Linked DNA regions of Homo sapiens: region 1 is linked to region 2. Evidence: fine-mapped expression QTL. A gene starts in region 2. The other region holds a variant in brackets. All regions are shown on one strand. Distances are between the middles of the regions.

Region 1 (2,916 bases), 25 kb before region 2:
TTTCCTATTTTCCACTGTGTTTGTTGGCTGGATCTCCTTAGCAAAGAAATGGTCTTTCAGCATTTTGGTTACATATCATTATGTTCCATTTAGTAAACTCAGCTTACAAAAAGGAGGCTGGGGCAGCCAGTTTCCAATGCCCCAGTGCCTGTGACATGTTCTCATTTAATACTAATTGCTCCCTGTAAAATTTGGCCTCTTGAATTTTGTTTTTCCATGATCAGCATTCTTTATGTCTCCAACCAAAAGGCTCCATCACTCATGCATAACTCAGATAATTTATTGCATTGCCTCTGAGGAATTTCTTTCTATGGCATGTTTCTAGAAAACTCATTCAACTCCCAAATAAAACAATGGAAGGATGGATGGGATGGGGTCAGGAGAAGGATCTGGAGAGATGTGGGGTAAAAGGAGAAAATATCTAAGGATGGTGTTTAATCAGAAAACAAGATTTTCAGTTAGCATTTCTAAATTGCTGAGAAGCTGGGTATGGTGGCTCACACCTGTAATCCCAGCACTTTGGGAGGCCAAGTCAGGCAGATCACGAGGTCAAGAGATTGAGACCATCCTGGCCAACATGGTGAAACCCTGTCTCTACTAAAAATACAAAAATTAGCTGGGCATGGTGGCGGGTGCCTGTAACCCCAGCTACAGCTGAGGCAGAAGAATCGCTTGATCCCAGGAGGTGGAGGTTGCACTGAGCTGAGATCTTACCACTCCACTCCAGTCTGGGCGACAGAGTGAGACTCCATCTCAAAAAAAAAAAAAAAGAAAAAATTGCTGAGAAATGAATTGACAAAGCTGTTTAGTACAGAAGAGAGTGTTCAGCTTAGAGATGGCCCATGTGTGTGTAAGGAGGTGACAGAAAGTGTGTTGAGAAGGTGCAGCCAGCTAAGTGGTGGGCACAGGCAGGGGGAAGTGGGAGAGAGAGTGGCTGGAAGGAAGGAGAGTCAGGAGGCCATTGGGCATCTGAAGAGCAGACAGGATGGGTTCTGGGAAGCCCTGGTTTCCCCTGACGTGGCTGTGGCCCAACCAAGCTCAAGCCTCACATCCTACACCTTTCCCCGAATTACTCCAGCTAGGACTGGCTGCCTCTCTCAACTCCCATTGCGTGAATGTGTTTGTGCAATAATTTAAGCTGGCAACCCACAGCCATTTGAGGCATGCAATGTCATTTTGCCCTTGAGAGCTCAAACTTGCTACTTTGGGTTTGATTCAGTTTCTTGTTCCCAGAAGCAAATGACTTTTCACCTCTGGATCTCCACCCAAAGCATGTTTGGACCATGGACCCAGGCAGGCTTCGAGGAGCCAGATTTTCCTGCCTGCCAGTTGAGGTTTGCCCGTGCTGATTTTACACATTCCTATTAGTTTTTAATGAGTATTTTGTTTTAGCTATAAAATAGCAACTGCAGAGCCATAAACTTAGAGATCACGTGGTTGGAAGTGCATGCTTTAATTTTCAAAGTATCTCTACATAGAACCAGGTTCCTAAACCTTTATTAAC[G/T]CCTATCTTTGGTCAACTACTACACAAGAATTAATTGAGTGCTTACTTTATGCAAAGCCCCAAGCTAGATACTGTATTAGTCTGTTTTCACACTGCTGATAAAGACATACCCAAAACTGGGTAATTTATAAAGAAAAAGAGGTTTAGTGGACTCACAGTTTCACGTGGCTGGGGAAGCCTCACAATCACAGTGGAAGGCAAAAGGCACATCTTCCTTGGTGGCAGGGAAGAGAGAATGAGTACCAAATGAAAGGGGTTTCCCCTTATAAAACCATCAGATCTCATGAGACTTATTCACTATCAGGGAACAATATGGGGAAAACCACCCCCATGAGTCAATGATCTCCCACTAGGTCCCTCCCACAACATGTGGGAATTATGGGAGCTATAATTCCAGATGAGATTTGGGTGGGGACACAGGAAAACCATATCAGATGCTATAGAAGGCATGAAAAAAGTCCAACCCTCCTCTCAGGATTCGAGACAGGAAAGGATTGAAGAAGTGAGTACCAACCAGTTGACTACATCAAACCAAATGTACTCTCCCACCTATTGCTGGTACTCTATTGCCTCCCCAGCCTCATTTTTTTTCACCCTGTTGCCCTCTGTGCTCCAACTATCAGAAACTGAGAAGTTTCTAAAGAAAGTTGGGATGGGCCATGAAGAAGAAGACCTTCAAGTCCAGGTGAAGGATTTGTGCTTTGTACTTACTATAGAGCCTTTGGATTATTTGATTTTGTGAGGTTTGTTTTTTTTTTTTTGGACACTAGCAATTCCATATTATTGTCAAAGGCATTTCAGAACCTAGGACTAGCTCTGACCCTTGACTAGCACTTTCCAGAGTCTTTGATATTGGAAGTGTTAACAGATGTGTGATTTTTTTTTTTCCCAGTCAGGCAAAAAAGGGTAGTAGTCTCAAAGGAACCACATAACAAAGATACCAAATACTTGACTTTTGAGGCCCAAGGCCTCAATGCAGGTGTGAGACAGGAGTGATGGGTACCTAGTGGGTACTGTGCTCACTACCTGGGTGACAGATCATTTGTACCCCTAACCTCAGCATCATACAATAAACCCATGTAACAAACCTACACATGGAGTCTGAATCTAAAATAAAAGTTGAATTTGTTTGTTTGTTTGTTTGTTTGTTTTGTTTGTTTGTTTGAGATGGAGTTTCGCTCTTGTTGCCCGGGCTGCAGTACAATGGAGCGATCTTGGCTCACTGCAACCTCCGCCTCCCGGGTTCAAGCGATTCTCCTGCCTCAGCCTCCCGAGTAGCTGGGATTACAGGCATGCGCCACCACGCCTGGCTAATTTTGTATTTTTTTTTAAGTAGAGATGGGGTTTTACCATGTTGTCAGGCTGGTCTCGAACTCCTGAACTCAGGTGATCCACCCGCCTCGGCCTCCCAA
Region 2 (2,916 bases):
GTGGACTTTATCTCTTTCCTTCTTCCCTAGGCCTTTTCTCCTGAGTAAATTCTCTCCAGTGCCTGATAGCAGTTTGTAAACTTTTTCCCAGATGACTGCTCTCTATAATCTATAATTCTCATCAATTATATATGAAAATATACACCTATATCTAAGGACATATATATATATATTTATATATATAAAATATGTAAATATATTATATATAATGTATATAATTATATAGAGATATATTTTATCTTTCCTCTGTTCCTTTAAAGCAAATCACTCCCACTCCCACTGCCTTTTTTTTTTTTTTTTTTTTTTTTTGAGACAGGGTCCCGCTCTATTGACCAGGCTGGAATGCAGTGGTGCAATCATGCCTCACTGCAGCCTCTGCCTCCCCGGCTGAAGTGATCCTCCCACCTCGCCCTGCCAAGTAGCTGGGACTGCAGGCACGCACCATCACGTCGGGCTAATTTTTGTATTTTTTGTAGAGATGGGGTTTTGCCATGTTGCCCAGGCTGGTCTTGAACCCCTGACCTCAGGTGATCCACCCGCCTCGGCCTCCCAAAGTGTTGGGATTACAGGCGTGAGCCACCGCGCCCCACCTCCATCTTCTACATGAGGATAAGGAAGCTCTGAGAGGTTAAGTGACTTGCCTAAGGTCACTCAGCCAATGAATGGTGGAGCCCAGCACTTAGCTCAAGCCAGGCGGCGTCACCGCTCACTGCAGGCTGTTCCCACGTGGTCAGGCGCAGGGTCTTTCTGCCTCATCACTGAAGTGGGGACTTGAATACGGCTCTTCCTTTTCTTGCATCCTCCATGTGCCCTCCTGGTAAACCAGATCCCCACGGCCTCAGCCGCTCTTCATCGGCCTGACTTGGGCTTCCAGAGCCTGCCCAGCCCACGTGGGGCTGGTTTGGCAAAAACTGGGCTCTAGATTTTGCTTTAGCTGTTTTCTTTTCCACTTCATTGTTTCCGTGGGATGTCTGCCTTCCCAAAATAACACCGGGGCATTCCAGGTAAACTCAACATCCGACGAAAATCCCCATTCAGCGGCAAGTCCGAAGGGTCCTGGTTTTTGCTATTGTTTTCCTCCCTTCCTCTGGCTCAGGCGGGGTAGGCGTCTGGGACAGGTTCCCGGTGGAGCCTGGATGGAGGGGGAAGCAGGAGGAGGAGAGGAGGGGCTTGGCCAGCTCCAGCCAGCCAGCTGATACTCCCGCCCTCTGCGCTAGCACTGGAGGTAGCCCTGAGCTTTCCCTTCTCACTTTGCTGGGGAATGTTCAAAGGCCTGTAGGAAAAGAACTGGGCAGGGTCTTGTGCCCTACTTCACTTTTATCAGAGAAAGAAAATAAAACCAAGGTGGCCCCTAATTCTGCTCTGATTTCTGGAGGCAGCATGGATGATATCATGGAGAAGCACTGGCTTTGGATTAAGCCAGAGCTGGGCTGAATCCTGGCTCTGGTGCTTACCAGCTGTAAGCTGTAGCAGCTGTAAGTCCATAAACAGCTTATGTGTTCCTCTGAGCCTCCATTTCCTCATCAGTAAAATGGGAGTGATAGTGTCCCTATTAGAGCAATAAAGACAGATGAATTCAATGCCCCAAATAGGACCTGCCCCATAATAGGGGCTCAACCCATATAGAATAGTTTTCTCTGTACTTCCTAGGATATGGGAGGAGGGGGAGTTGCTTACTTCTTCTTTGCTTTTTTTTTTTTTTTTTTTTTTTTAAGACAGAGTCTTGCTCTGTCACCCAGGCTGGAGTGCAGTGGTGCGATCTTGGCTCACTGCAACCTCCGCCTCCCCGGGGGTTCAAGTGATTCTCATGCCTCAGCTTCCTGAGTAGCTGGGATTACAGGCATGCAGCGTCACTCCCAGCTCATTTTTTTTGTAATTTTAGTAGAGACATGGTTTCACCATGTTGGCCAGGCTGGTCTCGAACTCCTGACCTCAAATGATCCACCTGCCTCAGCTTCCCAAAGTGCTGGGATTACAGACAGGAGCCACCGCACCTGGCCTTCATTGCTTTTTGATGTCATTATTACCCAAGTGCTGAGAAGGTGCTGTTTAGAGGCCAACTTAGAGAAGTGGAAAAAGCAGAGAGAGTGTCGTCAGACAGGTAGGGCCCATGCCTTACTTGTTTATGTATGTACCCCTAACAGAATTTTGTAAAGCTATCCACTGTCTACCCCCAGCACATTTAAAAAATGAAGTTCAAAAGTTAAGTAGCTGCAAAAACTGTGGTTTCTGGCTTATTGTAAATATTGATATTTAAAACCTACTGTGACTTCACACTTTAAAATGGATCCAGTGGAATGTAACATCGACAATTTGGTAGCCCCTATCATCCATTTTAAAATTTATGAAAAAGCTGATTGGCATTCAGGAATTTTACATCTTTCTTTTTATCTCCTGGAACTCTTATTACTATTCCTACTTCCTTCACAGATTTTTATCCTGACATATTATTTTCTTATGCTTCAGAGTATTTTATTGATCACATTTACATACATGGAAAAAGCCGTTTTTCGTATTTTATACTTTTTTTTTTTGCTCTTGTAGGATTCTCCCCCAAGAGCAGGGGGAATGAAGAACAAAGTCATTAAATGAAAATTGTTATTTTATTTATTTATTTATTTATTTTGAGATGGAGTCTTGTTGTGTCGCCCAGGCTGGAGTGCAGTGGCACGATCTCGGCTCACTGCAACCTCTGCCTCCTGGGTTCACGCCATTCTCCTGCCTCAGCCTCCCGAGTAGCTGGGACCACAGGCGCCCACCACCACACCCGGCTAATTTTTTGTATTTTTAGTAGAGACGGGGTTTCACCGTGTTAGCCAGGATGGTCTCGATCTCCTGACCTCGTGATCCACCCGCCTCGGCTTCCCAAAGTGCTGGGATTACAGGCGTGAGCCACCGCACCCGGCCAAAAATTGT

Alleles and levels. Positions count from the first base shown, and alleles are read on the strand shown. Sizes are in standard deviations (SD) of each study's normalised expression.
In carriers of allele G in region 1, the expression in tibial artery of the gene that starts at base 1,111 in region 2 tends to be higher than with T alone (small effect, 0.37 SD a copy in GTEx).

What was found. PIP is the estimated chance that this variant, and not a neighbour inherited with it, causes the effect.
Region 1: its variant is fine-mapped to the expression of LINC01936 in tibial artery (GTEx, PIP 0.98).

Annotation. Positions count from the first base shown.
Region 1 is chr2:30,370,338-30,373,253 of GRCh38, reverse strand. No RefSeq gene overlaps it. Among named protein-coding and RNA genes, the nearest start is that of LINC01936, 25 kb to the right of the region's middle. The variant G/T (reference allele first, on the strand shown) is at 1,505.
Region 2 is chr2:30,344,841-30,347,756 of GRCh38, reverse strand. It overlaps LINC01936 (long intergenic non-protein coding RNA 1936), which reads right to left and starts at 1,111. Exons shown (of 2, transcript NR_122048.1): 1 at 642-1,111.